5 separate regions of the Homo sapiens genome follow, and regions 1, 2, 3 and 5 are each linked to region 4. The links come from fine-mapping of genetic effects on gene expression. A gene starts in region 4. Each other region holds a variant in brackets. All regions are shown on one strand. Distances are from middle to middle.

Region 1 (4,392 bases), 53 kb after region 4:
AGACAGAGTGAGGGCACAGACTGGGGTATGGGCACAGGTGAGCATCTCCATATGAGCCGTACATACAGAATGTATTTTCCCTCCCAAGTTCGGGGTGGGTTTTGCAGTGAGTTGGAGCTGGGCCTGACTCTGTCTCCCCCTGTACCCTTGCCTTTGATCCCTGGAGTGCCCTGACTCCTGACTCCCTCTGCCTTGCAGGTTACTGAAGGACGGCCTCAAGGACTCTCAGTTCAGCATCCGCTACCAGTATCTGCTGGCAGCCTTACTGTGCTGCTGTGGCAAGGGGCTGAGAGAAGAGTTTAACCGCCAGTGCTGGCTTGTCAATGCCCTGGCCAAACTGGCCCAGCAGGTCCGGGAGGCAGCCCCATCTGCAAGGCAGGTTAGTGGGGTGAGGCTGCCCCTACCCATTTCTCATCCAGGGCTTTGGCAGCCAGTTTCTTCTTAGGAATCCTGAACAACAAGATTCCACGTGACGATTTTTGATTTTGGAGCGGGGAGCAGCTGACTCTGGAAACTAGGCCGTAAACAGGCAGTCCACAAGCTGGATACAGCCCGTGGATGTGTTTTGTTTGTCCTGTAAAATATTGAAATTTATTTAGCTGTTTGTTTTAAAGGCTAAGCACAGTTGTGTAAGTTGTTCATTGCACAAGAGCACTCAGCCAGAAGGGGCAAGTGAGGGCTGAAATCCAGCCATATTTTGTTCACCATGCTGTGACCCATGGCTCAGGCCTGATGCCACCCAGAGAGGACACCTTTATCTGTTTGTACGAAGACATTGTAACCAGCCAGCAGTGTTCCTGGTTAACGACATTTAAAAATTGAGAGATTTTGTATCAACGTCCAGATTGTTAGCTTTTCTTGGCAGAAGCCTAAATAGCTCTTCCCCCTTGAGAGACAGCCTGCCCTCTCTGTGCACTGTGGCCTGCTTCATGCTGTTCTGCCATCTGCTCCCCTCTAGAGCTATTTGGTCTTGCTGTTAGCGTACAGTCCCAGGCTGGGGTGTAGGGGGTCCTCCTCCTTAAGGATCTTCTGGAGGGTGTCCACACTTCTCAGGGGGTGGTTTTCATACCGACTACTACGGAGAACCCACCCCTGGGAGAGGTCTGGTTCTCAGTATGGACCCTCCATTTCACCCCTGCTGTACTCCTCCCCTTCTTTCCAGGGAATCCTCCGCACGGGCCTGGAGGAGGTGAAGCAGTTCTTTGCCCTCAATGGCTCGTGCCGCTTGCCACTCAGCCCCAGTCTGCTGGTTAAGGGAATTGTGCCCAGGGTGAGTGACTGGTAGGTTTGGGGCTCTCAGAGTGGGAGGGCTCAGTGGAGGTGAGGTCTTCACTAACCAGGCATGCAAGGTCGAGGAGCTGAGTTGTCTGGGCGTCAGTATGTTGCTAACTTACCATGTGGTCTTGGCCTAGCATCTTTTCCTCAGGGGTCTCAGCTCACCCCCATGCAACATGGTGAGGATTATGTTATCCTGTCTCTCCTCTACCCACACATGGCAGAAATAGAAAGGAGAAACGAGGCAGAGGGGCTGTGAACTCTGCTTAAAGACAGAATGAGGGCACAGACGGGGGTATGGGCACAGGTGAGCATCTCCATATAAGCCATAAAATAAGAGAGAGATTAGGAAGAAAGGCATATCTGTGGCCTCTTCCCATTCCTAATGTGTATGGACTTTTAGAAGCCTGACAGCTTGCAGGGTAGAGGAATTGGGTTGGAGGTTGGGCGGCTAGGCAGGTGTCTTTCTCTGATGATGTTGGGGATGAAGTCGGAGGTGGTGGTGGTGATAGCAGCTGTCATCTGTCATTTATTGAGCACTCTCTGTGCCCGGCCCTGTTCTGAGTGCTTAATGTTGGTTATGGCATTTCATCTTCACAACTCTTAGGATGTTGGTACTATTGGGAGTCCCCTTTTACAGAGGAGTAAACTGAGGTGTAGATGGGACATGTGACTTACCAGAGGTCACACAACTAGTAAGTTGTGCGCAGAATGAACTAACAGGATGGGAGGTTAAGTGCTGGAGCTGAGGTCATAACAAACTGAATTGGGATGATGACTATTTAAC[A/G]AGAGAAGGAAGGAAATTGGGTTTCTGGGAAATCCGGAAGAAACAATGAGCAGGTCTTGGGTGGACCGGCAGCAGCGGGGAGGCAGCATCTTGGTCTGAAGTGGAGAGGTCGTTTTCCTTTCCTGGCATGGGCCACTCTGACCCTCGTCACTATCTTTTCACCATGGCAGGACTGTTCCTACTTCAACTCCAATGCTGTCCCCCTCAAACTCTCCTTCCAAAATGTGGATCCCCTGGGTGAGAACATCCGTGTCATCTTCAAGGTGAGAATACTTTACTCAAGCCTGGTGGACCAGGGTGGGAGAGAGAAGGAGGCAGCCTAGAGTGGCATTAAGTAGCCCCTGGGTGGTTCTCTTCCCACTGTTCCATGCTGTCTTAATGTAGGAAAGATGATCAGGTGAAAAAGGATTTAGATGAATTCTGCATGGCCCCAGAGGCCTAACAACAGAGTGTTAGGTATAGGGAGGCAACTGGCAGCTCAGTATCCCGAAGTGCTTTCTAGGAGGCAGAGCTCCCTCAACAATGGGTTGGGTAAGGTGGTGATCCGCTTGTCCCTTGGGTATTCAGGCAGAGGCTGAATGCCATGTGGCAGGGCTGCTGAAGAGGAAATTAATATATCAGGTGCAGGTCCAACTAGATGAACCCTAAGGTCCCTTCTAACTCTGATGTATCCACAATTCTGAGAAGTAAATGATAGTCTCAGAGCATATAATCTAATGGGGGAGACAAAATACATGCATGTGACTTAGTAACTTATATATTTGCTATGCGCAAGTTCCAAATCCAAAGTCTAAACGTTCAAGTTTAAAAAAGGCCTGATGGCCTGGGTGTGGTGCCTCATGCCTATAATCCCAGCACTTTGGGAGGCTGAGGCATGCAGATCATTTGAGGTCAGGAGTTTGAGACCAGCCTGGCCAAGATGGTGAGACCCCATCTCTACTAAAAATATATATATATATATATATATAAATTAGCTGGGCGTGGTGGCAGGCACCTGTAATTCCAGCTACTTGGGAGGCTGAGGCATGAGAATCACTTGAACCTGGGAGGCGGAGGTTGCGGTGAGCTGAGATCGTGCCACTGCACTCCAGCCTGGGTGACAAAGTGAGACACTGTCTCAAAAAAAAAAAAAAAAAGGCCTGATGGTCAGAGGGGCTGCATGCAGAAGCAGACCGTGAATTTAATTCAGATGGGGCCATGGGATTGCAGGACAAGCTGGAACAACACATGGGCAAACTGGGAAGCTTCCTGGGCCATCTTTGACCTGGTGTGAGCTGAGTGAGCAGGTCAGGGGTGTGAGGCTGGGGAACTCCCTGTCACTGTTAGTTTAGGGCCAAGGTTGAGCACTTGGGAGACCTGAGAGCTGGGGAGGTAGTGGAGATTAGATCTGGTCACTTTCTCCCTCCATCCAGTGTGGGGACGACCTTCGCCAGGACATGCTAACGCTGCAGATGATTCGCATCATGAGCAAGATCTGGGTCCAGGAGGGGCTGGACATGCGCATGGTCATCTTCCGCTGCTTCTCCACCGGCCGGGGCAGAGGTCAGTTGGGAGTAGGGGTGAGGGTGGAGGAGGGGACCGCTTTGCTTATTGTCCTTCTGCCCATTGCCAACACAAACTGTGTCCTCCTCCAGGAAAGTGAAAAGGGCAAGATTATTTCATGAGAAGCTGTGGGATAGCCTTAAAAGGGAGGCATGGGAGAAGACTGTTATAAAGTAAAACAGACTTGGTGCCGTGACAGCCAAGCATATTGTGTAGACTTTGGATCCTGATTAAAACAAACCAATTGTAAGGAAATATTTTTTGGGCCAGACATGCTAGCTCATGCCTGTAATCCCAGCACTTTGTGAAGCTGAGATGGGAGAATTGCTTGAGCTCAGGAATGTTTGGGACCAACCTAGACACCTCATCTCTAATAAAAATTATAAAAAATTAGCCAGGCCTAATGGCATGTGCCTGCAGTCCCACCTCCTCGGGAGGCTGAGGCAGATGGATCGCTTGAGTCCAGGAATTTGAGGCTGCAGTAAGCCATGATGGTGCCACTGTACTTCAGACCAGGCGACAGAATGAGACCCTGTGTGAAAATATATATATAGAGAGAGAGAGAGAAGGAGAGAGACAGTTGGGGGAAGTTTGAATATAGATTGAGTTAGATTAAAGAGTGATTGTTAATTTTTTGGATGTGACAATGGCATGGTGTCTTTGTTAATTACACTTGAAATATTTATGAGTGAAATAAAGTATCTGGGATTTGCTTTAAAATACTCCAACCAAGGTGGCAGGGAGTGGAGAAATAGGGTTGTGTGATTAGCAAACAAGATTAGCAAAAT
Region 2 (4,392 bases), 33 kb after region 4:
CAAGTCTGCTGTGGAAAGAGCTTGGAGCTGGGATTAGGCAAAGACTAGGTCATATCTGCTTGCAGATTCTGCTTATGGAGAGATGTGTGTATTTGTGGGGAGGGGTGGGCTTGGGGAGACTATATGGGTAGTGCTGTATCTCCTGCTCTAGATTATGTGTGGTGTTTTTATGGCTGGGGCAAAATGAGGACTGGGCAGAAGTTCCCTTGTGGAGCCCAGGGGAGAAATTACAATTACTGTCTCTCCCCATTCTCCTGCCAACAAGTCTTTTCCCCAGCTGGCCCGTGCAGCTAGTTATCCTCCTCCCAAAGGCGTGCCTCCAGCTCCTCTCCATCCAGTGCCCTCTCTGGAAAGCAGCCTCCCTGGAAAGTCTGATGTGGACCAGCTGAGGCAACCCCCTTTCCACTACCCTGGGCTCTGGAGGGCTGCAGTGGAAGAGAGGCAGGGGCAAGGTTATCACTTCTCAGATGGTACAGCTGTGTGACAGCAGACAGATAAGATCTGCTTTCCTCTCTTAGGCTTCAGAGCCGCTCCTGCCCCCAGTCTCTGTCCACTTGGAGGAAGCACGTTTTGGGAATAGAGAAAGGAGAGACCTGTGTCTCACTTCTTAGGAGTGCCCTATAAGTGCCACTGCTTGCTTTTTCTCTCTCTTACATTCAGGTCTAGATGCAAGGATGGTTGATCTATGTCTAGAGCATAAGATTTGGCAGTCAGGATGGAAGATTCATTTCTGGACTTCTTTCTTTTTTTGAGACAGAGTCTCACTCTGTCGTGCAGGCTGGAGTGCTGTGGCGCCATCTCACTCAGCTCACTGCAACCTCCGTCTCCCAGGCTCAAGCGATTCTCATGCCTCAGCCTCCTGAGTAGCTGGGATTACAGGCATAAGCACCACCACGCCCGGCTAATTTTTGTATTTTTTAATAGAGACTGGGTTTCACCATGTTGGCCAGGCTGGTCTCGAACTCCTGACCTCGGGTGATCTGCCCGCCTTGGCCTCCCAAAGTGCTGGGATTACAGGTGTGAGCCACTGTGCCCAGCTATCTGGGCTTATTTCAAATTTAAGGATATTGTGGGGTCCTTTCTGGCCTCTGCCTCCTCATCTCGAAGCTAAGGGAAAGGAAAGAGGCAGGGTTCTGTATGGTACAACTCCAGGGTACCCTTCAAATGTGCCCCACCTTTAAACTCACTTATGTACACACTTTTCCCCTAGAGGAACAGGAGGGGTCCTAGACTCAGGGTTGCCTGGCAGAGAGAGTGCCAGGTGGCCTGCCACTGTTAGAAGGGAAAAAGGGGACATAGTGGATAAGTTGGAGCTCCTGCTGACGCCATTACACAGGTTTGAATTCGGACTTGCCACTTACTAGTTGTGAAGGCTGATTGATGCTCAGGGCCCTCTGTAAGCTGCAGTGAGGGTGAAATGTGAGAATGACCTGTGAGCAATCAGTAAATACCAGCAGGGAAGGAGCAGCCCACGGAGAGAAGTCCTAGGGCTCTGGGCTGCACAGATACTGCCATTTCCCTTGCAGCACCCCAAATCCTGGAGCCCCTGGGTCCGGAGGTAGTGGGAGCTGTCAAGTTCTACCTTCCTGCTAAGACTCAGGTGAAATATTCTTAGTGAGGTGGGACAGGGTCAGCGGTCCTCAGATCACACCCCTCATACTCTCACTTGAATGCACAGAGAGGAAGGCCTTCCACAGAGAAGATCAAGCAAGTCCCCAGGGGACCTGTGTGCATGACTCCTGGCCTAGGAGCCCCACTCCCACCCAACAGAAAAGCACAATGCTGTCTCCTGGCCCAGCCCCCAGACCCCCAACACATGACAACTGCCTGGGATGGGGGTGGAAAGGACGCTCCGGGGGTTCCAGAAATCTGCTAGTTCCCAAGGAAGCCCTGAGATTTTCTACCCCTGCCTGGCAGGAGGGGCTGATACTGAGGGGGTGAGTGGGTTCAGGATGCAGGCTGCTCTCAGATAAGAACCTTGAGGCAGTCCCGTGGGAGGGTTGGGTTTCCTGCCACCTCCCCCAGCCCCACCACACTCTTCCTTCCTCCCAGGCTCTC[C/T]CACCAGGCCCAGCCCCACAGCCCAGCCTCACCACCTCCAGGTTTTGGCTGCACTTCAGTCTTAGATCTGAGAGGGTCTAGATCGGAGATTTGGTCCTCTCAGGATGTGGAGAACCCCTCACTCGAGCCCTCATGGGACCTAGACGACCCTGGGCCCTGCACCTCCGCCAGCTTTTACATATACTGCCCCCCTTATGCTCCTGTCCTCTCCTCTCCATTTCTGGCCTAGATTCCCAGCTCTGCTGAGGAAGGAAGTCCTTTTCCGGCTTCTGTTACCCAGCTGCTGAGGCCAGGCCCAGGCCTGCAGTGCTGGCCTGGAGGTAGTTCTCCCTCTGCCCCTCCTCTTGGGTTTCCTTGCTGTTGAAGGTGTGATTTGGGAGAGAGGAAGAGGTTGGATCGCCGAGGGCTCCTAGGCCTTCTCTCTGAAAGGGGGAGTCTCACACATGGGTGCTTGAGCAGGTGGGACTGGCATGCATTTGGGACTTTTCAAGAAGTCATAGAAATTTGTAAGGTTATTCACAAGCAGGCAGGGCCAACAGATGGAAGGCAGAAAAAGAAGTTGGGTGGGGACACTGATCTGGAGGCTTGGTAGGCTTGCCCCAAGTTTTTTTGGCCTCAGCACCCTAGTTGGTAGCATTGGAAGAGGGGTCTCTCGCTGAGCTCCCACCCTGGAGCCTGAGCACAGGTGGACTCCAACATGTCTCTTCCTGGTTGTCCCCTATACAGAGGCCCAGAAGATAGGGCTTCAGCAACTGCTCCCTGTGATGTGCCTCTGTTTCCCCGCTCTCTCCAACAGTTCCCAGCCCTGGAGTGAACCAGTGATTACCACACGGGTAATAAATATCTAAGAGAGTCAATATTTATACCGGCCAAGGATTAAGTATATTAGGTGGCTTTTGTTTAGATAGACCTCTGTTCCTTCTCCTAAGCTCTACCGTGTCATTTTCTAGGAGCCAAAGTAGGGTACAACACGGGTACTACCCCCTTACCTAAACCTTCTTTCTGTATGTCTCTCCCCAAGGCTAAGGTATGTATCTCCCTTGCCACTGAGTCCCCAGGATGCTAATGGTCTTGTCCCTCTACCCTACCAGCAAGCATGCCTTGGGCAGTCATGAGTACATCCAATACTGCCGCAAGTTTGACATTGACATTCGGCTACAGCTGATGGAGCAGAAGGTTGTGCGCAGTGACCTGGCCCGGACGGTTCGTGTGAGGGTGGTGGAGGGTTGCCCAGGGCTGGGGAGGTGGAATGGGAATACAATATAGAACACATCAGGTGGGAGGGGGGTAGGAGTGCTGAGCTGAGATAAGGGCACCGCCCCTCTCTGAATAGGTCACTTCTTATACAGGTGAATGATGACCAGAGCCCCTCCACCTTGAACTACCTCGTCCATCTCCAAGAGAGGCCTGTCAAGCAGACCATCAGCAGGTGAGTGTGGGCACCATCTTGGATGTGCTCCAAACAAGAACTGTGCAGGGATCCCATCAGATGTGCCTGCTTGCCTTTCTGTCAGGGCTAAGGGATTCTTGCAGGTGTCAGGGGTTGGGGCCCACACATCTTATCAGAGAAGATCCCCACTCCAGGCATGTTTCATTTCTTCCCTCTGGAACTTTGCCATCATTCTCTCCAGGCGAGAAGTGGCAGAATAGAAAGACTCTCCCTCTATATGTCTTCACAGGACATATAGAAAGAGTGGGAACTCCTTTAAATCAGAGTGTGAGCTGAGGAGAGGGAGGGAGAAAATGGGTTTCCCAGGGCACTGGGTCTTTCATGACCTCTCCTGTGGTTTTTCCCTGCCCCCAACTCCCAGGCAGGCCCTGAGTCTTCTGTTCGACACTTACCACAATGAGGTGGATGCCTTCCTGCTGGCTGATGTGAGTACGAATCCAGGGGCTGGCCCTGCTGCCCGAAAGCTCCTCCTCTCCCCTTCCTCAGTCCTCCTGGGATCACCCAGCACTATGAGGGGTCTGGGTGGAGCCTGAAAATCTGTTGGCAGAGCACTTCTTTTTAACCCCTCGCTCATGGGCAAACTAAGACTACTAGATGTTGGGCAACGGCAAGTGCGTAGTCAGGGATTCTGCTCCTCTATAGAAGAAGCAGGTCGGAAACTGCATGCTGGTCCCATTCTCTGGAATAGGATGTCTCCAGAGCTAAGGAACCTAGAGCTGTCACCCCCCAGCTGCTGCACTTGATGTACACTGGAGCATGCATCCTATGAGCAATGTCAGAAACCTCCAGTTTGAGAGGTTCTGTTTTGCTGTTATCGCAGGTAGGAAACCATCAGGAGGTAGAAGGTTTCACATGTAGGGAGGGCCAGAGCCCTCCCCACTTGG
Region 3 (4,392 bases), 40 kb after region 4:
ATTCTTATGGTGATTCCCAGTCTTTTGGATTTCATAGACCAGTAAAATGTCCCCCAAAGTATTTGGGGGACCAAGAGAGAATTGGCAGCCTTTTACTTGGCCAAACTTTTTTGACTTTTGCTTTTTTGAAGCAACTGACAATAATTATTAACACTGTTTCCTAAAAGAAAGGACATTTTAATGCTAAGTAGCAATACGTAAAAATAAGGATTATGTTTAACATTGTATAACTGTCATTTTATGAAAAGCTCATGACATGCTTCTGCTTTTTTCTCATTTTACCGCAGATGGGTGAACTTTGTCACAGCTATTAGAGACTGACTAGCATTTGGGGACCACTGTCTTAGGCCATCCCATTCTAGCCAATGCCATGGCAACAAGGTAGGGCTTGTGGAGGCCTCATGACTTTCCCTTCTGACCCCTTCCCTTCCCAGAGAAGGTCGTGGAAGCCCTGACCGCTGCCATCTTGGACCTGGTGGAGCTGTACTGCAACACATTCAACGCAGACTTCCAGACGGCAGTGCCCGGGAGCCGCAAGCATGACCTGGTCCAGGAGGCCTGCCATTTCGCCAGGTCCCTGGCCTTCACTGTCTATGCCACCCACCGCATCCCCATCATCTGGGCTACCAGGTGAGCCCAGGGCTGAGTAGCCGCTAGGGAGCAAGCTGAGTTTGACCTCCACCAGGGCTTTTTCCTATCTGCATGTAATACCACTGTCCTAAGTCTTAGGATGTGTGGCATTGTGTGACATTGTGGTGCAATGGGGCTGCGGGGGTGAGCCAAGTGCCTGAGGAGGACTTGGGCTGGGGACATCCTAGAGGAGAGAGGAGGTCCCTTAGGAGATGAAGAAGATCCTGTTATTCCCTCTTGGTGCTGGCTGCCTCTGCATCCCTGCCCCCTCCAGATCCAAGACCAGTGGAAGGAGACATGGCAACAGATGGCCGATTCCCAGATAGAGTGCACGCTCCCTGGCCAGTGGGAGGGGGTGGGGAGGTGGGATTGACCCTTTGTCTGGGGTTCTCTAGGCCTGCAGGGGTGGGTGGAGGAGGATGTTCTTTTGGTAAAATCCTCAGCGCCTCTGTTGGGTCCCCAGCATCCAAGGCCTGAGGGAATAGGCACTGGGCCCTACCCCGCCCCTGCCGGTCCCCTTTCCCCAACCCCCTTCCCCTTCTCTCTTTGTTCCTTACTTAATGTATTCCTCTGGGCGATTGGCAGAGAACAAAGGAGGCAGCCTGGGAAACCGGGGCCTTCTCTGACCTCTTCTGTCAGGCACCTGTCATGAGCCACAGGGACCCCCGTGTGTTGGCATTCATGTCGGCATATGTCGTCTTCCTCCCCCACCCTTCTCACTTGCGCATGCACGTGCACGCGCACACACGCACGCACACACAGACGCTCCATGGGCTGGAGCTTTCTATAAAGAGGCTGGGTGGCCAGTTCCCATTAAAGGAAGAAAAACAACAAGGCTCAGAATGGAGCCTAAAACCGAGCAGAGGAATCTAGATTGAGTTGCTTTGGCCTGAGCACATTTCCTTACATCCAGTTTGGCTGTCCTATCCGGAGATCCTGTGTTACAGCCCTCAGAGACTGAGAGTTTTACCAGGGGAAATGGATTTTGGCCTTAGAGGGACGCATAGGTTTGGGTGATTGGTTTTGGGAGCTGGGTGTCCTGACCTGCTCCCTTTCTTTTATAGCTATGAAGATTTCTACCTCTCCTGCTCCCTCAGCCATGGCGGCAAGGAGCTGTGCAGCCCCCTGCAGACCCGAAGAGCTCACTTCTCCAAGTACCTCTTCCACCTCAT[C/T]GTCTGGGACCAGCAGTAAGCCCTTCCCCCAGGCTTCAGTGCCCAGGCCACTGTAGACCTGCTCAGCCTCTGAAATATCCCTGGGGCCAGATAACTAGTCCAGGACTAATGATAAAACCAGGCTCCTTGTTAACCCTAACTGGACAAGTCATTCAACCTCTTGAGTCTCCACTTCCCTGACTCTTTTTTTTTTTTTTTTTTTGAGAGGCAGCCTCGCTTTGTTGCCCAAGCTGGAGTGCAGTGGTGCGATCTCGGCTCACTGCAAGCTCTGCCTCCTGGGTTCACGCCATTCTTCTGTCTCAGCCTCCCGAGTAGCTGGGACTACAGGCGCCCGCCACCACGCCCAGCTAATTTTTTGTATTTTTAGCAGAGATGGGGTTTCCATGTGTTAGCTAGGATAGTCTCGATCTCCTGACCTCGTGATCTGCCCGCCTCGGCCTCCCAGAGTGCTGGGATTACAGGCGTGAGCCACCACGCCTGGCCTCCACTTCCCTGACTCTTAAAGGAGCCAAGTATAATTACCACTTCTCAAGTTGTCATGAGGATCCAATGAGAAGTATCTATAAAGGCTCTTTGTAAACCATAAAAAACATATAAATTTTAGTTGTTGACCAGGCGCGGTGGCTTACGCTTGTAATCCCAGCGCTTTGGGAGGCCGAGGCGGGCGGATCACCTGAGGCAGGGAGTTCAAGACCAGCCTGACCAACATGGAGAAACCTCGTCTCTACTAAAAAAAATACAAAATAGCCGGGCATGGTGGCGCATGCCTGTAATCCCAGCTACTAGGGAGGCTGAGGCAGGAGAATCGCTTGAACCCGGGAGGTGGAGGTTGTAGTGAGCTGAGATCGTGCCATTGCACTCCAGCCTGGGCAACAAGAGCGAAATTCTGTCTCAAAAAAAAAAAAATTAAATGTTAGTTGTTAATTTTAATAATACTTTATTTTTTGATCTTGTCTCCCTTAAAGAGTTTAACTAGTTGGAGGGCTTCTCATCCTCTCCCTTCTTCCCTCAGTTCCTGTAGACTATGGAGAGGAGACTGTGCTTTTCCCTTTATATATAGAGAAGGGAGGGTTGTCTAGAGAAAGAATATTGAGCTTGGATTCCCAGGAGTGAGCCTCTATTTCTAGCTCTGTCTCGAATACTACTTTCTCTCTATTCTTTCTGTGCCTCATTTTTTCAAACTGAGAAATGGGGACATTGGTTTCACTCAGAGGCAGTTATGGCGTCGAGATGAGATAGGTGGGTTATAAATATAAATATGAAACCAAAAGCACAAGGTAATATTAATCACCACATGTAAACAATAATTTGGTGTCGGGAAGGTAGGCGTCAGCCAAGCAAAGCAGGAAGGAAACGGAGGAGAGGGTGCCTTGCTTGAATGGGGGCACCGCAGGGGTTTTCCTGCCCTGTGCTTCATCTGTGCTATGCTCTACCTTCCTTCCAGTCAGTCAGAAAATCCCCTGTTTGCTGCCCCCGGCTTTGCTTCCCCACACTGACTATATTAGAGTCCTCATTTGCAGAGCAGCACTGCAAGCTAAGTATTTGTAGCACAGATTAAAGAGACTGAGGAGGGTCCTGGGGAGGCCGAGGATGCAAAATAGGTAGATGAAGAATCTGGAGATGCTGGAAGAGGTGGGTCCTTTTACAGATGGACAACTGGGAAAATGGACCCTTTCTCATGCCCTTCACACTTAGGTAATTCTTAGAGCAATAAAGGTGTATATGGCTGGGCACGATGGCTCACACCTGTAGTCTCACCGTACTTTGGGAGGACAAGGCGGGATAATCACTTGAGATCAGGAATTTGAGACCAGCCTGGGCAACACAAAGAGGCCTTATCTCTACTAAAAAATTATTTTAAATGAGCTGAGTGTGGTGGCGTGCATCTGTAGTCCTAGCTACTTAAGAGGCTGAGGTGGGAGAGTCACTTGAGCCTGGGAGGTCGAGGCTGCAGTGAGCCATGATCACACCACTGCACTATAGCCTGGGCAACAGAGTGAGACCCTATCTTAAAAAAAAAAAAAAAAAAAAAGGACATGGGGTGTGCATTAAAGGTCCTCAAGCAAACAACTGCCAGGACAGGAGAAACTCCTTGCAGGCAGAGGATAGCTGCATTAAATGGCCCTTGAGTTCCACCATTCCCTTGGGATTTTTTGGTCACAATTACTGCTGCTGTCAAGAGAAGGGGTGCCAGCCTGGGCAACAAGGGAGACCCAATCTCTACAAAAAATACAAAAAATTAGCCAAGTGTGGTGGCATACACCTGTGGTTCCAGCTACTTAGGAGGCTGAGGTGGGAGAATCACTTGAGCCTGGGAGGTCAAGGCTGCAGTGAGTATCCAGCCTCGGCAACAGAGCGAGACCCTGTCTCAAAAAAAAAAAAAAAAAAAAAAAAAGGGTGCTGCACAGTGTTCTGGCCCAGGAGGAACTTTAAAAAATTGGCCTTAAACCCTTTACTCATACAGTATCAGAGGTAGAGAGGCAGCCCAGCCTGCCCCATGAGTTTCATTTTGTTCCCTGAGATCCCCACCTTGAATTTTAAAGGGGCAGTCCCCTGCCTAGCGCCTTGTGAAGGGCACTATCTTGCACTG
Region 4 (4,392 bases):
GAGAGGGAGGGGAGAGAGAACCACCCGTGGAAGCTGTGATCTTTGGTTGAGGGTGGCAGCCAGCGCACTGTGACCCCAAAGAGAGGAATCCTGAAGAATAAATATCCAGTTTCCCCTGACCTCCCTCCTTATTCAATCTTCAGCCATGGCCCCCATTGGCCAACCCAGTCTAGGAAGCCAGAGGGCCAGGAAGATCTGGAGGGGCAAACGGAAGACATGCAGTGCATCTTCCAAATCCTTCTCTATAATATGCCAGGAAGTCTTTTTCTGGTCACACTACTTCCCAGTTCCATTTGTGCACAGCAGGTTCTCTGTCACCTACAGCACCTAAACTTTTTGGCATGCCCTGGTTTCTCTTTATTCAATTTTTTCCTTACCAAAATGCATGATAAAGCCTGTGATCTGATCCTCCACTCAGCTACCTATGCCTACTTCCTGTTAGTTCTTTCCTTCAGACTTTTCACCCCAGCAGCATAGAACCACCAGTGGTCGCCGGGCGCGGTGGCTCACGCCTGTAATCCCAGCACTTTGGGAGGCCGAGGTGGGTGGAACACAAGGTCAGGAGATCGAGACCATCCTGGCTAACACGGTGAAACCCTGTCTCTACTAAAAATACAAAAAAAAAAAAAAAAAAAAAGAAAAAATTAGCTGGGCATAGTGGCGGGCGCCTGTAGTCCCAGCTACTCCGGAGGCTGGGCCAGAAGAATGGCGTGAACCCGGGAGGCAGAGCTTGCAGCGAGCCGAGATCACGCCACTGCACTCCAGCCTGGGCGACAGAGCAAGACTCCGTCTCAAAAAAAAAAAAAAAAAAAAGAACCACCAGTGGCCCCTGTAACACTCTGTTCTCTCAGGCTCCTGAGCTTGACCTGATGACAGACACAGAGTAAGCTGTCATAAATATTTGTATGGTGAAGAAGTGCACGGACACGTTTTTTAACCCCTGTGGCTCCTGAGATCAGGAGTAGCATCATATACATTATGACATATGTGCAGACCAAGCTGCCTTCAGTTAATTATCAAGATGTTTCACCTACATTCTCTCCTTTGATCATTACGAAAGCGTGATAGGTGAGGACGCTATTCTTGATATTCAGAGGGTGAAGTGGAATACTGAAAGTCACAAGCATTGGGTACAGAAGGCACTGTAGGATCAGAAAGGGGAGTGATCCCTTTCCTCCCCATCATAAGAGTCACAGCCGACACTTCTATAACAAAAGACAAGTTAACCAGAGAAAAGCATAACAAATTTATTTAATCATGGTTTTACTTGAGAGGCTGAGGACCAGGTGTTAATCTTCATAGTCTGTCGAGAAAGAAAGAAGAAATGAGGGCAGTGGAGGAAAACACGATTCACGTTTTTAGGAAAATATACTTTGAGATTAGTGATCGTTGGTACTATGCAAACCAAATGCAAACGAGGAGCTGGCCAACTCATGGTTTCTTTTGGGTGGAGCCTTTAGGAAAATTCTTCCAGAGACCACTGCTGGAAGAAAGGTATTTAGAGTAGAAAATTTAAATATAACATATTGTATGAAAGGTTTTTTTTTTTTACTTTTTTTTCTCACTACCCTAGTTGGGTTGGAGGATCCTCTATCTCCCCTCCCTACTTAGGTTGACTGCTGTTTCCTGGATCGCAGCTCGGAAGATCCACCTGGGCGAATACAAAAACAAACGAGACTCCCCTTCCAGAAAGGGAGGAAGGAAGGAGACAGAAAGACGAATGACACTGAGCGTGTAAAGCCCGGAGACAGCCTCTCTCTACCCCAACCTAACCCTCAAGGTAGGGGATCCCCCGAACATCGCTACCGTAATTATGGTAGAAATTCCTGAAACGGATAACTGGACCTCAGCACCGTCATTTCTAGCAGAATGATTGAGCTTTCCTCTGACCCAAAGCCAAGGGGTTCCAGCAGGGGAAACTAACGACCATCCGCAAAAACCCTCACCCAAGTGGGGAGTGGAAATCCTGGCTCTTGGGTTGCAGAGCACAACTTGACGCCAGCGCGTTTCTCTTCCCCCACGCAATGGCAAGTGGGGCGGGAGTCGGAGGGGAGAGGAGGAGAGGAGAAGAGAAGAGGAGGGGGAAGGGGAGGGGAGAGGCGAAGGGCGGCCCGGGTTCCAGCAGCCGCCCCGCCCTCCGGCTCGCGGCGGATTCGGCGCTGCGGCTGGAGCCGGCGGCCGGGTGCCTGCCTGTCCAGGCAGGGTCTGGCCGAGCGTCGCGTCGCCGTGCAGTGCGCCGGGTGTCCGGGAGATGGCTTCCCCTCTCTCGCCCGCTGCTGCCGCTATTGTCTCACCCGGGGTGGCCTGACTCTGCGAGCTCGCGCACGCTCTCGGCGGAGAGCACCCCTCCCCACCCCCACAAGCTGGTCCTTGCGCCCTTTGCTGCCTCTCCCTCTGCCCCTTGGAGCCTAGGGTCTGTGCGGAGCCTGGAGAGGGGAGCGGCCCGGGAGCAGGCGGCGTGCGGCCGGCCAGCTCCTCTCGCGCTGGTGCAAGAGGCGCCTGGAGCCGCAGAGCGAGCCCGGGAGGCGCGGAGCGAGCAGCCCACGTCGCCAGGCACAAGACACGTCGGATGTTGCAGCAGAGCCAGCAGCTAGCGCAGGTAGGACACGCATCCTGCGGGTTGCATCGGCCCCAGCGTCTGTAAAGTGCCCCCAGAGTGGAGGCAGCCGAGGTCAGGGGGCTCTCCCTCCAACATGGCAACAGCGGAGGTGCAACAATGGAAGCAGCCGAGGGTTCCTGGCGGCGGGCTGAGCGGCGGACGCCGTGGGAGCCTGAGCTCCTGCCCGCCGGGCAGAGCAGGTTGCCCCTCACCCCACTCCACTCCACTCCAGCAGCTTCAGGGCCTCTGGGGCTCCAGGCACCCGCGTCCCCACCCCCTTCTCGCTAAACACACTTCCTGGCTCCCAGCTGCAGGGCGATCTGAACCAGTCAATGGCTTTGGGGTTTGTTTATTTAAGATAAGAAATAAAAAAAGCAAAACCTGTCCTGTGATGGGGTTAGTGCCTTCTGTGGACTGGGTGAGAAGTCGGCATCTAGCCTGGGGAATGTGTACGTTTCTTAGTCGGGCGGAGGGTAGAATTGGATTCTCCCTTATAAGGATACTGCAGCAAAAGGAGACTGAAAGCTTGAAAGAGGGAGAGGGACCCTCAGGCCTGAGTTCGCCGGTGCTGGGAGAAGGCGCTGCTCTCCTGGCCTATACTTGTCCCTCATTTTCAGCTCCCGACAGCGGTGACTTTGATGTTGGAGGAGCAATCGCAGCAGGAAGCACAAGCAAGGCTGCCAAGCTGGTGTGGGGTGGAGTAGGGTGGGGAGCCCAGGGGCTTGGCAGGCTTCTGGATTGTGGGAAGAGGTTACCAAATGTATGAGGTTAGTGCACACACCCTAGTTGGCTGATGTTGAAGTGTGTGTGTGTGTGTGTGTGTGTGTGTGTTTTCTGCCATTGCTCTTGCTCCTTCAGGCCTGCCTTTTCTCCTCTCCACCCGCTTCTGGGGTCTTCGTAGCTTCCCTGCCCCAGCCCTTCCAATCATGCCTGGGATGGAATCGCTGTATTGTCTCTGGCAGCTCTCTTGGGCTGTTTTTTCTCAACTCTGTTGGAGAGTTTTGTACCCTGGGCTGGCTGGTCCCAGCATGGCACCAGATTCTTTAGCAGGCGGCTACCCGGGCTCCAAGAAGTGGGCCAATGCTGCCCCTCCTCCTTGCTCTAAACTACCTATTTGGGATATGGCCAGGCAGATGTAAGCAATTTGTACTAAATTCCAACCCTGAATCAGTGCTGAATGAAAACTTACTCTGTTGCTGCATCAGGCTTTGGGAAGATATTAGGAAGAGAAATGGCCCAGGAGGTGGCAATGCCGACCCCCAAATACTTCCCTCTCCCCAACTCCAGCTGCCGATCCCAGAGCAGACAGGCAGTGAGACTTTGGAATCCCAGCTCCTCCAGAGTCTGGCTGGCCCATCTTGAGGTTGTGTCCATGGAAAAATTAAGTCGAGGCACATTTTATAGCTCTGCTTGGCAGCCAGCATCTGAAGAGATGGTGGCTCTGAGCTGGAGCCCTAGACCCAGGCTGTGGCTGCTTCTCCTTTGGCCTTTGGGTGAGCCTGAGGTTTGATTGCCATGGCTCTGAGCTTACTGCTGAGTGTGTATGGCTGAATCTGATCAAGCTCTCAGACCCGGCTGCTTGTCTATTTCCTTCTCCACTGGAAGCATGAGTGAGAAAGGGCCAAGGGGGTGTGCTGGGTGAGGAAGGGTCAGTTTATCTGGGGACTTGGGCTGTTTCTGGGGGAGCTCCTTTGGACTTCCTTGGTGGTCTGGAATGCCTTTGGTCTTTGTCATGACCTAGTATGCTCTGGCAGATACTCTATACCCTCGTGGGCCTTTGGTCCCCGCTTGGT
Region 5 (4,392 bases), 21 kb before region 4:
AACAGCCTGGCCAACCTGGTGAAACCTCATCTCTAATAAAACACAAAATTAGCCAGGCGTGGTGGCGCACACCTGTAATCCCAGCGACCCGGGAGGCTGAGGCAGAAGAATCACTTGAACCCGTGAGGCAGAAGTTGCAGTGAGCCAAGATCGCGCCACTGCACGCCAGCCTGGGCAAAAAGAGCGAAACTCCACTCAAAAAAAACAAAAACAAAACAAAAACACAACCAAAAAAACCTGTGGTTTTCAAGCTTTAAGGTATACAAAAATCACTGGGAGGTGTGCTCATTAAAATATATTTCTCTGAGCCCCATCTCGATACTGTCTGTAGGTTTCAGTGTGGCCCCAAAACGAACATTTTTTCTTTTTTTTTTTTTGAGACGGAATCTCCCTCTGTAGCCCAAGCTGGAGTGCAGTGGCGCGATCTCGACTCACTGCAACCCCCGCCCACGGATTCAAGTGATTCTCCTGCCTCAGCCTCCCGAGTAGCTAGGATTACAGGCATGCGCCACCACACACATCTAATATTTTTGTATTTTTACTAGAGACGGGGTTTCACCAGGTTGGCCAGGTTGGTCTCGAACTCCTGTCCTCAGGTAGATCCACCCACCTCGGCCTCCTGAAGTGCTGGGATTACAGGCGTGAGCCACCGCGCCAAGCCAAAACAAGCATTTTCAAACAAGCACTCAAGTGCCTCTAAGGTAGACTGTCCGCAGACCTAAAAACTAACTTAAAAACTTAAGACACGTCAATGTCATTCTACCCGGTTCCCTCTCTCCCACCTCCTTTCTCCAAATTGCCTCAACAGTCCTCAAATGTTGTGTCCAGTTAAACTCAATCCAACTACGTCGACTTTAGGTTTGTCACCTGTTGGCCAAAGTTACTTCACGTCACCCCACCTCCACTTTTATCTTCCGCGAGCCCTCATCCCACAACTCTTCCCCTCCCCCCGAGCCCTTCTTCCGCCTGGCGCGGCCTTCCCCACGCCGCCCGACCCACCTCTCAAGCTCCTCCCGCCCGCTACCCGCACAACTGGCGGTACGGCCGCCTGCTCCTCACTCTCCAGCTCCCGCTCCCGGCACCCCGCCGACGAAGGCCAAGAGCCACACCTTACGGCAGCTCCATGAGTCGCTCCCCCGCCGAGCCCGGGTGGGGGGAGGGGTGGCAGTCACAGATCCTAGGGCCTCGGCAGCATTTTGAAATGGCGAGTAATGAAGCCGCAACTTCCGGCCTCCCACACGGCCTCACACGAGGGCTTCCGGTGAGGCCTCCGGAAACCATAGATGGAGCAATGGGAGGACTAGAGAGCTAGAAAGGCTGAGCTCACTACCATAGAGTAGATCCTAGTCCGGGGAGAGAGTCGTGGGGCCCGAACGGTTGAAAGTCGTCAGATTTGAAGAGATAATAAGTGAGGGACTTGCAGGGTCTTGTGATATTTACAGACGTGTATTAGGAGATCAGAAAACAGAGAAGAGGAAGAGCTAAGGTCATAATCACAGGCTGCCTTCAGCTCTTCGGAAAAACTACGCTTCCTCTGCCATTCCCCAGTCCTCACCCTTACTCCCCAAGGGTGGTAGGGAAGGGAAACGGAGCGATGGCGGCACTAGGGTGGCAAGGAAGCTTGAAGCCATGTCAAATAAATAGTTGAAAGCACCAGCCGCTGTGGCTCACGCCTGTAATCCCAGCACTTTGGGAGGCCTAAGGCAGGCGGATCACCTGAGGTCAGGAGTTCGAGACCAGTCTGACCAATATGGTGAAACCCTGTTTCTACTAAAAATACAAAATTAGTCGGGTGTGGTGGCGCATGCCTGTAATCCCAGCTACTCAGGAGAATCGTTTGAACTTGGGAGGCGGAGGTTGCAGTGAGCCGAGATAGCGCCATTCCAGCCTGGGCAACAAGAGCGAAACTCCTCAAAAAAAAAAAAAAAAAAGAAAAAGAAATAGTTGAAGGCTCAAGGGAGTTTTTAACCTGCATATAAACGAGGGAGGCCGGGCGCAGTGGCTCTCCCCTGTAATCCCAGCGCACTTTGGGAGGCCGAGGCGGGCGGATCACCTGAGGTCAGCAGTTCGAGACCATCCTGCCCAACATGGCGAAACCCCCGTTTCTACTAAAAATACAAAAAATTAGCGGGGCATGGTGGCGGTCACCTGTAATCCCAGCTACTTAGGAGGCCGAGGCAGGAGAATCG[T/C]TTGAACCCGGGTGGCGGAGGTTGCAGTGAGCCGAGATAGCGCCATTGCACTCCAGCCTGGGCGACAAGAGCGAAACTGCATCTCAAAAAAAAAAAAAAAAAAAAAGAGGGAAAGGGTTGAGCATAGAAATTGGAAGCTGTCTTCAAATAACTGAATAGTATAATATTGGAAATAACGGAGCCTTATTCTCTTCTCCAAAGTGCAGAACTAAAACCAATAGAAATTACAAGGCAGTATTTTTAAGCTCAGAAAATCCTCTAACATTTAGAGTTGTTCTGAAATAAATGAAATTAGGTATTTGGGGGAAGTAATGTCATTTGAAGACAGCCTGCCTGAGAGGTTTGTTGAAAGCTCTTCTATATTAGGAAACATTAAAACTGGCTGTGTAACCCAAGAAAGCTCCATCTCAGTGTTCTTTGCACCTGTCTTTTAGCATTTACCACGTATTTTTTTTTTAGTTATTTGTGTATATACCATTCTTATCTCTCCCAATAAGCAACAACAAAACCTGGCTCCCAATGCTAGATACAGACCCATGCAAAAGAACACAGGGCAGTAACCTTCCTTAAATTTGTACATTCCGCTTTGTTCTACTTCTAGCATAACCTCCTGCATAGCTGGGAGATCCAGGGTTCCATTAAGGAGCTGAAGAATTAACTTCTTTTTCATAGAAATCTGCAACCACCTCACTCACAAAAAAAAAAAAAAAAAGGTCAAGGGTGCTTTTTTAGGTGAACCACTGTCAACTATTTCCCCTGTCCTTTTGTGCAATTAGTATTTTTTAAAACTTTCAACAGGAATTTTTTTTTTGTAACTTTTAAATAGCATCTGGTTAGTTTGGATCCTTTCCTAATGTCTCCTGGAGCCTTGGAATATGATCTGTTCATGCAATTCAGTTTGTGTGAGATCAACAGGTATTTGTTGAGGCCAGGTGCAGTGGCTCACACCTGTAATCCCAACCCTTTGGGAGGCCAAGGTGGGAGGATCGTTTAAGCCCAGGAGTTCAAGACCAGCCTGGGCAAGAAAGCGAGAACACCATCTCTACAAAAAAAAAAAAAAAAAAAAAAAAAAAAAAATTAATTAGCTGAGCATCCTACTTGTGCCAAGCACCAATCTAGAGGATTCCAAAACAAGACCTGAAATCTGTCTAGTGGAGGAATCAGACTGTCCAGGTAAAAAGAATGTGGTAAGTGCAATGATTGATGAGCTGCAGTTAACCTCCTCTAGGTTAAGAGAGATAAGCCTTTTCAATTTGGGCAAAATATTGACCAACATCTTTAATTCGTCTTCATTTAAAATCTCGAGGGCCCGGCGCAGTGGCTTATGCCTGTAATCCCAGCACTTTGGGAGGTCGAGGCAGGTGGATCACGTGAGGTCAGAAGTTCGAGACTAGCCTGGCCAACATGGTAAAACACTGTCTAAAGATACAAAAAAGATTAGCCGGGTGCAGTGGTAGGCGCCTATAATCCCAGCTACTCGGGAGGCTGAGGGAGGAGAATTGCTTGAACCCGGAGGAGGAGATTGCAGTGAGTCGAGATTGCTCCACTGCACTCTAGCCTGGGTGATGGAGCCAGACTCTATCTCAGTCAATCAAAAAAAACAAAACGTTGATAAATATGTTGACGAGGCCATGGTGAAGAATAGAGTTTTTCCCATCGTGGTTGACACTGATTTGTGAGTAATTGCTCATCTTCTAATTTTTTTAAAAAAATAGACACAGGGTCTTACTATGTCGCCCAGTCTGGTCTTGAACTCCTGGCCTCAAGTGATCCTCCCCCACACCTTGGCCTCCCAAAGTGTTAGGATTACAGGTGTAATCTTATAATCCTACAGGTGGCACCCGCCAGCACGCCCAGCTAATTCTATGTGTGTGGTTATTTTGTTTTGTTTTGTTTTGTTTTGTTTTTGAGACGGAGTTCCCTTCTGTTGCCAGGCTGGAGTGCAGTGGCACGATCTCAGCTCGCTGCATTCTCCGCCTCCCAGATTCAAACGATTCTCCTGCCTCACCCTCCCAAATTGCTGGGATTACAGGCGCGTGCCACTACGCTCCAGCGTGGGCGACAGAGGAAGACTCCATCTCAAAAAAAAAAAAAAGAAGAAATGAAAGAAAGAAATGAAATTGGAAATTGGCTTAAAAACTCAACTGAGTGATCACCACTTCCTTCTTTAAGAACTATGCTCACAAACCATTGATTCGAATAA

The links. PIP is the estimated chance that this variant, and not a neighbour inherited with it, causes the effect.
Region 1: its variant is fine-mapped to the expression of PIK3C2B in whole blood (TOPMed, PIP above 0.99).
Region 2: its variant is fine-mapped to the expression of PIK3C2B in whole blood (TOPMed, PIP above 0.99).
Region 3: its variant is fine-mapped to the expression of PIK3C2B in whole blood (TOPMed, PIP above 0.99). The same link has a PIP of 0.9 or more in sun-exposed skin.
Region 5: its variant is fine-mapped to the expression of PIK3C2B in whole blood (TOPMed, PIP above 0.99).

What each region holds. Positions count from the first base shown.
Region 1 is chr1:204,439,404-204,443,795 of GRCh38, reverse strand. PIK3C2B (phosphatidylinositol-4-phosphate 3-kinase catalytic subunit type 2 beta) reads left to right here. Exons shown (of 33, transcript NM_001377334.1): 19 at 199-379; 20 at 1,163-1,270; 21 at 2,233-2,325; 22 at 3,475-3,604. Among named protein-coding and RNA genes, the nearest start is that of PPP1R15B, 30 kb to the right of the region's middle. The variant A/G (reference allele first, on the strand shown) is at 2,063.
Region 2 is chr1:204,459,419-204,463,810 of GRCh38, reverse strand. It overlaps PIK3C2B (phosphatidylinositol-4-phosphate 3-kinase catalytic subunit type 2 beta), which reads left to right. Exons shown (of 33, transcript NM_001377334.1): 6 at 3,150-3,261; 7 at 3,408-3,487; 8 at 3,870-3,933. Among named protein-coding and RNA genes, the nearest start is that of PIK3C2B, 33 kb to the left of the region's middle. RefSeq lists a silencer at 1,316-1,610. The variant C/T (reference allele first, on the strand shown) is at 2,059.
Region 3 is chr1:204,452,094-204,456,485 of GRCh38, reverse strand. It overlaps PIK3C2B (phosphatidylinositol-4-phosphate 3-kinase catalytic subunit type 2 beta), which reads left to right. Exons shown (of 33, transcript NM_001377334.1): 11 at 435-630; 12 at 1,695-1,817. Among named protein-coding and RNA genes, the nearest start is that of PIK3C2B, 41 kb to the left of the region's middle. RefSeq lists enhancers at 679-1,656, 3,249-3,358. The variant C/T (reference allele first, on the strand shown) is at 1,803.
Region 4 is chr1:204,492,563-204,496,954 of GRCh38, reverse strand. It overlaps PIK3C2B (phosphatidylinositol-4-phosphate 3-kinase catalytic subunit type 2 beta), which reads left to right and starts at 2,150. Exons shown (of 33, transcript NM_001377334.1): 1 at 2,150-2,599. It overlaps LOC124904584 (translation initiation factor IF-2), which reads right to left. Exons shown (of 2, transcript XM_047439554.1): 2 at 1,223-2,779. The coding sequence ends at 1,759. RefSeq lists silencers at 2,001-2,470, 4,030-4,109 and enhancers at 2,571-2,700, 2,771-2,960.
Region 5 is chr1:204,513,227-204,517,618 of GRCh38, reverse strand. It overlaps MDM4 (MDM4 regulator of p53), which reads right to left and starts at 1,213. Exons shown (of 11, transcript NM_002393.5): 1 at 1,110-1,213. RefSeq lists enhancers at 941-1,220, 1,251-1,330, 1,341-1,470, 909-1,819, 760-1,959 and 1 more. The variant T/C (reference allele first, on the strand shown) is at 2,190.